Regions from separate parts of the Homo sapiens genome. Here region 2 is linked to region 1. The links come from fine-mapping of genetic effects on gene expression. Tissue or cell type: whole blood. Region 1 holds a variant in brackets; the other region holds the start of a gene. All regions are shown on one strand. Distances are from middle to middle.

What was found. PIP is the estimated chance that this variant, and not a neighbour inherited with it, causes the effect.
Region 2: it holds the start of CEACAM19, and the variant in region 1 is fine-mapped to the expression of CEACAM19 in whole blood (GTEx, PIP 0.94).

The regions. Positions count from the first base shown.
Region 1 is chr19:44,597,937-44,603,087 of GRCh38, forward strand. No RefSeq gene overlaps it. Among named protein-coding and RNA genes, the nearest start is that of IGSF23, 13 kb to the right of the region's middle. The variant C/T (reference allele first, on the strand shown) is at 3,176.
Region 2 is chr19:44,668,632-44,673,782 of GRCh38, forward strand. CEACAM19 (CEA cell adhesion molecule 19) reads left to right here and starts at 2,851. Exons shown (of 8, transcript NM_001127893.3): 1 at 2,851-3,355; 2 at 3,965-4,333. The coding sequence starts at 3,301.

The DNA of each region.
Region 1 (5,151 bases):
ACCATCACAAAAACGAAAATAACAAGGATTGGCAAGGATGTGGAGCAGCAAACAAGGAAACCTTGTGTGCTGTTGGTGGGAACGCAACCTAGTATGGCTGTTGTAGAAGACAGTATGGTGGCTCCTCAAAAAATTAAAAATAGAGGTTGGGTGTGGTGGCTCATGCCTGTAATCCCAGCACTTTGGGAGGCACTTTGAGAGAGAGAGGGACAATGAGAGAGAGAGGTCCCTGAGGGGATTGGAACCTCTGGTTCTGGGTGTCTCTGTGCTCTCCTGTCTTGGAACTCATTTATAACAAATTTCCCTTTGTGTGTAAACTGCCTCAAGTTGGACTCCTGCCATATAGACCCAAAAGAACCTTAAGAGCTACACCTGCCCTGACAGGATGCATCCTGCATTCCTCCTCCCAGAGAGAGCATTTTGTCAAGACTAGCTTCAGCTGCAAGTAACAGAAAACCCCAAAATCAAATGGCCTCAACAAGATGGAAGTTTCTCTTTGACATAAATGGAGTCTGGAGGTAGAGAGTTCAGGGCAAATGTGGCAGTTTCATAATCCTGGGGACACAGCCTCCTTCAATTATTACTGGCCTGTCATCTTCAGTACATAACTTGGGGTCCAAGATGGCTGCCAGAGCTCCAGCCATCATATCCACATTCTGTTCAGTAGTGAAAGGATTAGGAACAAAAGCTATCTTTAAGGCCAGCTCCTAGTAGCCTCATATAACACTTCTACTTCTATCTATTGGCCAAAAGTCAGCCACATGGCCACACTTAGCTCCAGGGAACCTAGAGAATATATTTTTTGCTGGACTCCCATGCATCCATTTAAAAATCAGGGTATGTATTACCAAGGACATAGAGGATGTGGACATCAGAAGCGTCTCTTCCAAAACCTTCTTCCTTCTGTAGAGATGGTGGGCATCCTAAACCTTCAGCCCCTGAGGGTCTCTAAACTGAAAAGTTTCCTGACAGACATTTGGAGAACTGATTCCACCAAAAACTATCCACAGTGGGCCAGTGGATGTCACTAACCTGGAGCAGATGGCAACCTGGGGAACAGGCCCAAGGCCAAGCAGCCATTAATCGCCTTTTGGAGCCCAGCCAGAAGAAACTCTTGATAAGAATCCTAGCCCCAGCCAGGACAAGGTCCCTGCCCTGCCCAGCTGGGAGCCAATGTGAATCAACAATCCACTCTTCCTGTGTGGCAGCCAGAGGGAGTGTTTACCTGGTGATCTTCAGGAACTGTAAATGGGGTGAGTTCCGATCTTCTTCACCTCCCCAACCCAGAGATGAAGGATCCAGTCTTGCACCCCCATCTAGACGAGCCCTTATCTTACCATTGTCCTCACCCAAAATACACACCTCCACGACCAGGGGACACCATTCACACAGAGCACAATAAATGGCTCCCACCAAGGTGGGCAAGGCACTGGTCCTGATTCTGGTCCACAGCCACCTGGGATGAGAAGGGGATGTAAGAACTAGATTGAGTGGGGTATCCCCCGCTGTATCCACTTCCAGAGAAGGGCAGGGCAAGGTGGAGCAGGATGAGATAGAACAATAACAATAGCTTCTATATATCATTCACACAAGATAGATTACTCTTGTTACAGCCCAAATGACAGGGTCATTGTAGACAAGCAACAGGAAGAATTTGGTGGCAAATGGCGGACAGTCTAGGAGAAGAGCAGAGGGCAACCTGGCCCAGGTAGCACATAACTATTCTCTCAGGCATACCTGTTAGGGTCCTGACCAGCTCTCTAGATGAGTGAGAATTGGGAGTTGGGAGCAGAAACCGTTGGGTATTCTTTGGACAGTTGGAGAAAAGGGAAAGAAGAATGGGCATGGGACCTTGTTCTGGCCAATGCCTAGTGAGAAGAAGTCTGCTGGGGGCTGATGGGAGAGATTTTATTGGATCTTGAAGAGAACTAGGAGCAGCAATTCCCCTTTTGTGTCTCTGGATGCGGCTGGCCACCATCTTGGACTGGGAGGGAAGTCACCATGAGAGGACAACCTGTTGAGGCTGGGGTAGGAAGATGAAGAACCTGGATCTTTGGTGTTATTACTGAGCCATTGTATTAACCAACCGAGGAACTGCCCTTTCATTGGAATCCCTGCTACATAAGATAATACACGTCAGTGTTTTAAACCACTTTGAATTGAGTTATCCACTTTGTATGGCCAAAAGCATCCAAAGTCATGTTTGAGGGGCTGGTTTTCTCGTCTAAACACAGCCCCGGCTCAGTTAAGCATAGGATGGGATGAGGAACAGGAACACAGGAGGCAAGGAGGAATGTCCCTGAAAATGTTTGTAAATGTGGGGTCGACACCAAGAGGCAGAGGGGAAACTCAATTAAAACTTAAAGACTGCAAGTTGTCACCATTGTAGACGTCTCAGCTTTGCAAGAAGTCAAGAATTTTCCAAATGCCACTCTTCAAGAGACAACTGGGCAGATGTGGATATTATTCCAAGATATGGGAAAACCTAATGTCACCATTAACCTTTGAATGAGATACAGCTGAAAGTGACAGATTCTTGAGTCCAAATGACTGGCCCAGATTCTCAGGCGTCCTAGCACAGCACAACCGAAGTTGGCACTTTTCTTTCCTACTTTGTTTATTCATCTTGGGGATGCAAAACGCTGCATGCATCATCTTCTATTTATTAGTAATCCTGTTACTCCTATTTCTTTCCCATGTTGTCACATTTTTACCGTATTAGAGCTGCTGCTTTGTTCTCCTCTCAATACCAAAAAATGTGATTGCAAGATTTTGCCTTGAAACTCTGGGCTGTTGTAACTCCTGGAAATAAAAATCTCAGCAGCATAAAAAGGAGAAAATCATTCTCTCTTCTGCAACTATAGAAAAGCAGACACTCTTTCCCTCATAAAACCTTCCTTGTAAATGTGGTTCTCACAAAGGAGTCCTATAAGACACCCAGACTTCAGAGACTGCTCTTGCTGCATCCTGCAAGAGCCACCTCTAACTTCCCAAAGCTGGGCTGATTGTCTTCATTTCTAATTTGTTATTCCTGGTAATGACACTCCTTTTTCCTAAAAAGTACAAAGAATTATGAGTTTTCATTGGCCATTCTCCCTTCCCCTACCCTCATAGAGCTAAAAAGACCACCCAGGACTCTGCTAGAAATTTTTATTAAAACATATAGATAATGTAA[C/T]AGTCTTGTCTCATTTAAATGAATATTTTCCTTCATGCTGATATATGGATGGTGGCTGAAAACAGCAAGATGAGAAAATTGCTTTCATTTGGAATACTATTGCACTTGTGTTTCCTAAGATATTTCAGGGGTCAGTCTGGTGTTAGGACATTCATGTGCTTCTGATTTGATTGAAGATTGAATTAACTTAAATTCTTTTTTTTGTTGTTTTTTACTTTTTTTATTTTTTTAAAGACAGGGTCTCACTCTGTCTCCTGGGAATGGCTGGGACTGGAGTGCAGTGACAGGAACCGTAACTCACGGCAGCCCGGAACTCATGGGCTAAAGCAATCCTCCCACCTCAGCCTCCTGGTAGCTGGAACTACAGGCACTAGCTAACTGCCTAGCTAACTTTTTAAAAAAATAGATGGAGTCTCACTATGTTGCCCAGGCTGGTCAGGAACTCCTGGCCTCAAGCAATCCTCCCACCTTGGCCTCCCAAAGCACTAGGATTACAGGTGTGAGCCCCTGCACCTGGCCTAATTCAATTTCTCAGAAGGCGAAGGGGACAGATCCATCCCTGGGAAAGACATCTGACTGTTCTATGATGGAAAAGAGAAAGGACTCTGACTCCATTAGTACCCCACGATGATCTGAAGCTGCGAAAGTGACCCATCAGAGGAGCTGCTGTCTCCACCATCACAGGCAGGTGGGGAATCAAAAAGCTGCTGCTGTTGCTGCTAACTGGAATTGTCGGCTCCAGACCTCTGCAGGGCTTGCTGAATTCACACAGGCAAGAGCCTCTCAAAACACACTGGTGATGATACAGAAGATAGAAAGAAATTATTTAGGCAGATAGTAAGAGCAACAGAGTCCTTGGTGGAATTCCTCTTTAACAAAAAGCAGCCCCAAAATCATTTCTTTTCTAAACAAAGAGCAGCCTGAAAAATTGAGCTGCAGACATAGATAAGCAAGCTGGAAGCTTGCATGGGTGAATGCTGGCAGCTGTGCCAATAGAAAAGGGCTACCTGGAAGCCAGGTATGTTCAACCTGGAGGCTCCATCTTCCCTTTTGTTTGTTACCACATGTGCGGTTAAAAAAAAAAAAGCAGGCAACATGGCACTGGCCAGGTAGACAACCCATCTGCATAATGAAGCTGGGTGGGGCAGCCAGCTTCTTTGCGCGCTATGCAAACGGCACACTTAGTCCTAACCAGTTCATCATGTGCTATGCAAATGGCACACCTGGTCCGACCAATCTTTCGTGTCCTATGTAAATCAGACACAGCCTCCTCAATCTCATCTATAAAACCTTCTGCATTTCACTGCCAAAGTGGCAACCTATTTTCTCCAGAACCCCTCTCTGTGCAGAGAGCTCTTCTCTTTCTTTCACCTATTAAACTTCCCCTCTTAATCTTACTCTGGTGGTCCATGTCCTAGTTTTCTGTGGCTGTGAGACAGCGAATCTCGGGTATTTACCCCAGGCAATGACACTGTTTCAGTGGTATCTCAAAAAAAATCTAAACGGGTGTGGTGGCTTACGTTTGTAATCCCAACACTTTTGGAGGCCAAGGCAGGCAGATCACTTGAGGTCAGGAGTTCGAGACCAGCCTGGCCAAAATGGCAAAACCCCATCTCTACTAAAAATATAAAAAATTAGCCAGACATTGGTGGCGGGTGCCTGTAATCCCAGCTACTCAAGAGGCTGAGGCAGGAGAATTGCTTGAACCTGGGAGGCAGAGGTTGCAGTGAGCCGAGATCGCAATCACGCCACTGCACTCCAGCCTGGGCAACAGAGCAAGACTCTGTCTCAAAAAAAAAAAAAAAAAAAAAAAGAACCTTAGTCTCCACAACAACTTATCTTATCCCAGACATTCCTTTCTATTGATTCCAGGTCTTGAGATGATAACTTAACTCTTTCAACCAATTGCCAATCAGAAAATCTTTGAATCCATTTATGACCTGTAACCCCTCTGCCCCACTTCAAGTTGTCCCACC
Region 2 (5,151 bases), 71 kb after region 1:
ACACATATTATATATGTATATAATTATATAATTATATACATATATTATATATTATAATATATTATATATTATATTATATATTATAATATGTATATATAAATATAATATATAATATAATATAATATAATATATATAATATAATATATAATTATATATAATATATATTATATATAAAATAATATATATATATTCAGTTTTTTTTTTTGGAGATGGAGTCTTGCTCTGTTGCCCAGGCCGGAGTGCAGTGGCACAATCTTGGCTCACTATAACCTCCACCTCCCAGGTTCAAGTGATTCTCCTGCCTCAGCCTCCCGAGTAGCTGGGATTACAGGCATGCGCCACCACGGCCAGCTAATGTTTGCATTTTTAGTAGAGACAGGGTTTCATCATGTTGCCCGGGCTGGTCTTGAACTCCTGACCTCAAGTGATCTGCCTGCCTCTGCCTCCCAAAGTGCTAGGACTACAGGCATGAGCCACCACGCCTGGCCTATTCAGTATATTTTTTTGAGACATGGTCTCACTCTGTCACCCAGGCTGGAGTGCAGTGTCATGATCAAAGTTCACTGCAGCCTTGACCTCCCAGGTTCAACAATCCTCCTGCCTCAGCCTTCTGAGTAACTGGAACTATAGTTGAAAGCCACCAAGCCTACCTAATTTTTTAAATTTGTTTTGTGTAAAGTTGGGGTCCTACTATGTTGCCCAGCCTGGTCTCCAATTCCTAGGCTCAAGCAATCTTCCCACCTCAGCCTCTCAGAGGGGTAGGATTACAAGTGTGGGTCACCTGTGCCTCCCTAAATTTATATTTAAATAGCCACATATGACTAATAGCTATGATATTAAACAGCATAACACTAGACCCTCCATTATCCAAGCTCTGTTGATCCAACCAACAGAGCACATTTGATCTCTCCTACCTCCCAGCCTCACACACACAGGCCCCACACCCTCCTTCCTGGCTCCACTCACCCAAGATATTGCAACCTCCTCAATACACCTTGATGACTATCTCAGCCTCCACATCCTTGCATTGCTATTTATGCTGCCTGGTGCACCTCATGCTGCCTCACCCCATCATCTGCCTCATTTCTACTCTTACTCCAGGTCTCAGCTCAGATGCCCCCTCCCCCAGGAAGCCCTCCCTAGCCGTCAGGTTGAATGAGGTGTGTCTCCTTGGGCTCTCCCAGACTCCTGGGCTCCTCCATCCCAGCCCTGATCACTCTGGATCATAATTGTGTGAGAGGGGTCTGCCCCCCCAAACCCTACAGGATTGTGTGCCCTACTGTGGACAGAGGGCAGAGCAGAGGTGGTCTCAATCATCACTGTGTCACCAACATCACCCAGCACACACAACTGGGCACTGGGAATGTGTGCTGGAATGAATGGAGGATGCTTTTTAAAAACTAGGCTAAGCCAGGTATGGTGAGTCACATCTGTAATCCCAGTACTTTGGGAGGCTAAGGTGGGAGGATCACTTGAGCCCAGGAGTTCAACACCAGCCTGGGGCAACATAGTGAGATCCCATCTCTACAAAACATATAAAAATTGACCAGGGATGGTAGCACACAACTGTGGTCCCAGCTACTCAGGAGGCTGAGACGGGAGGATTGCTTGAGCCCAGGAGTTGGAGGCTGCAGTGAGCAATGATCATGCAACTATACTCCAGCCTGGGCAACAGAGCGAGACCCTGTCTTAAAAAAAAAAAAAAAGAATAACACACTTGGAATAAACATGATCCAAAAAAGTACAAAACATACACTCTGGGGCTGGGTGCAGTGGCTCATGCCTATACTCCTAGTACTTTGGGAGGCCGAGGCAGGAGGATCATCTGAGGTCAGGAGTTTGAGACCAGCCTGGCCAACATGGCAAAACCCCATCTCTACTAAAAATACAAAAATTAGCCAGGCATGGTGACGCATGCCTGTAATCCCAGCTACTCAGAAGGCTGAGGCAGAAGAATCACTTGAACCTGGGAGGCGGAGGTTGCAGTAAACTGAGATTGTGCCACTGTACTCCAGCCTGGGTGACACAGCATCTAAAAAAGAAACCAATCCAAAAACTACAAAATATTCTTGCAATTATAGGTGACATATTTAAATGGTAAGACAACCAATGTTCATGAATGGAAAGACAGAGCAAGACCCTGTCTCAAGAAAAAAAAAAAAAAAAAAAAAAAAAAAAAACAGGCTGAGCGCGGTGGCTCACACCTGTAATCCCAGCACTTTGGGAGGCCAAGGTGGGCAGATCACCTGAGGTCAGGAGTTCAAGACCAGCCTGACCAACATGGAGAAACCCTGTCTCTACTAAAACTACAAAAGTAGCCGGGCGTGGTGGCGCATGCCTGCATTTCCAGCTACTCCCTGAGGTGGGAGGATCGCTTGAACCCAGGTGGCAGAGGTTGCGGTGAACTGAGATTGCGCCATTGCACTCCAGCCTGGGCAACAAGAGCGAAACTCCATCTCAAAAGAAAAAAAAAGAAAAACACGAGGCTAAGAGCTTTTTTTTTTTTTTGAGACGAAGTCTCGCTCTGTCACCCAGGCTGGAATGCAGTGGCGCGATCTCGGCTCCCTGCAACCCCTGCCTCCCAAGTTCAAGTGATTCTCCTGCCTCAGCCTCTCCAGTTGCTGGGATTACAGGTGCCCACCACCACGCCTGACTAACTTTTGTATTTTTAGTAGAGACAGGGTTTCACCATGTTGGCCAGGCTGGTCTCAAATTCCTCACCTCGTGATCTACCCACCTTGGCCTCCCAAAATGCTGGGATTACAGGCGTGAGCCACCGCACCCAGCCTGCCTCAGAGCCTTCAAGTGAGTCAGCCACAGGTGAAATCCCACCTCTGTCTATTGGCAGACTTGCCTCTTTTCCTGGGCCTCTGTTTCCACATCTGTGCAATGGGAACAGTTATTTATGGTGGCTGCTGAATGAGGCAGTGTGTGTTTGAACAAACCCAGGGGAATTGTTCAAACAGAGGCTGTTATGACTATTGCTACAGTGACTGCTGTTGTAGTCACGCTGAGTGAGAAAAAGAGGTTGAAGAGGGTCAGGGGAGGAGTCCTGGGAAGTTCCCCAGTCACCCTGAAAAACTGGTTCAACCTCTGTCTGTGCTCCCATCCCAGGGAGTATAGGTGGAGCCTCCAGAGCCCATGGACAGGGCATGCTGGGGCTGGGCCAGCCCCAGCGGTGTCTCTAAGGCACCCCTGGGATCCCCACTGAGCTGGCCTACTTCAGACAGCCAGGGCCCACCCCTCTGGCCCCCTTAGTGTCCAGCTCGTGGCCCCTTGGCATTTCCACAAGACGCCAAGATGGAGATTCCCATGGGGACCCAGGGCTGCTTCTCAAAGAGCCTCCTGCTCTCAGGTAAGGAGGAAATAGACCCTAAAGGCCAAGGGGAGAAATGGGGACTCAGCCCAGAGATTGAAGTTTCCTCTTAGAAGTAGGGAAAGATTACCTGAGAGGATGAAATTAGAATAAGATGGGGGAGGGGCAACAGAATCACAGCCTCATTGCCATTTTATCTATGGAATTTTCTATAATGTTAGGACCATGAAGGCAGGAATTTATGTATGTTTGGTTCCCTGCTATATCTCCAGTGTCTAGAAATTGAAGGAAGTTTAGATGTATTACATATAGTTGGTATTATAGCTTATATATTACATATGCCTATAAGTATTGGTTGAATAAATGAATGAATGAATGAATTCAGAGAGTCCATGTGTTTAGAAGCAGGCCACACAGCATCTCAAGGTAGAAAAACCTCTGGATCAACAGGATGGCAAATCTGTGGTAACCATGCCTGTGTTCCCACTCCTGCACCCAGGGCAGACATCACTAATCAATCCCAGCATTGTTTCCAATGAGCAGCACTCAGAGTCCTTGCTCCCCGCTGAAGATCTGTATCTAGAGAGGAGCATGCCATGGTCCCTGGCAACACCCCTGATCTCAGCCCTTCCCTGTAACTTCCCACAGCCTCAATCCTGGTCCTCTGGATGCTCCAAGGCTCCCAGGCAGCTCTCTACATCCAGAAGATTCCAGAGCAGCCTCAAAAGAACCAGGACCTTCTCCTGTCAGTCCAGGGTGTCCCAGACACCTTCCAGGACTTCAACTGGTACCTGGGGGAGGAGACGTACGGAGGCACGAGGCTATTTACCTACATCCCTGGGATACAACGGCCTCAGAGGGATGGCAGTGCCATGGGACAGCGAGACATCGTGGGCTTCCCCAATGGTTCCATGCTGCTGCGCCGCGCCCAGCCTACAGACAGTGGCACCTACCAAGTAGCCATTACCATCAACTCTGAATGGACTATGAAGGCCAAGACTGAGGTCCAGGTAGCTGGTAAGTGTTAGGGTCTGGGGATGAGGTGAGGAAGCTAATGAGCCCTGAGCAGCTACCATGCACCAGGTGCTGTGCAAACACCATTTCATTTGGTCCTCTCATTTATTCACTTGACACATATTGAGCATCTACTGTGTACCAATCCCCAGAGATAGTCTTTAACCCTCACATGCATTAACTAATAAAATATCTATGAAATGCCCGCCTTGTGCCTGACACTGGAGAATGCACCATCTCATTTACCTTTCACATGCACTAACATTAACCAAATTTTTATCGAGCACTTACTGTATGCCTGGTTGTGAGGAATGCATCCCTCAATCTTTATGTTTATAAAGCGAGTATTTACTGATGAATCCACTCGGGGCAAAGTGTGAGGGAAAGGGTGGTGGGCAATAATGACAGCTGGCATTTCTTGGGTGATCGTTAAGAGCCAGGCACCATCTTAAACATTTTCCCTAAAGCATAGTTTCTCAGCTTCAGCACTACTGATGTTTTGTATTGGCCAGTTCTTACTAGTAGAGGGTTTGTGCATTGCAGAGATTTCAGCAGCACCCCGGCCTCTACTCACTAGGTACCAGTAGCAGCTTCCTAGTCATGCCAACCAAAAATGTCTTCAGATATTACCAAATGTCTCCACCCTGGGATAAGAATCACCCCTGGTTGAGAACCATTACTCTATATTTACTCATTTTTACCTTAAAACAACTCCATGAGGCCAGCGCCATTATTGTCTCCATTTTACAGATTGAAAAATGGAGGCACGCAGTGGTTATGACTTGCTGAGTAAAGAATACGAACCAGAATGATGTGACATG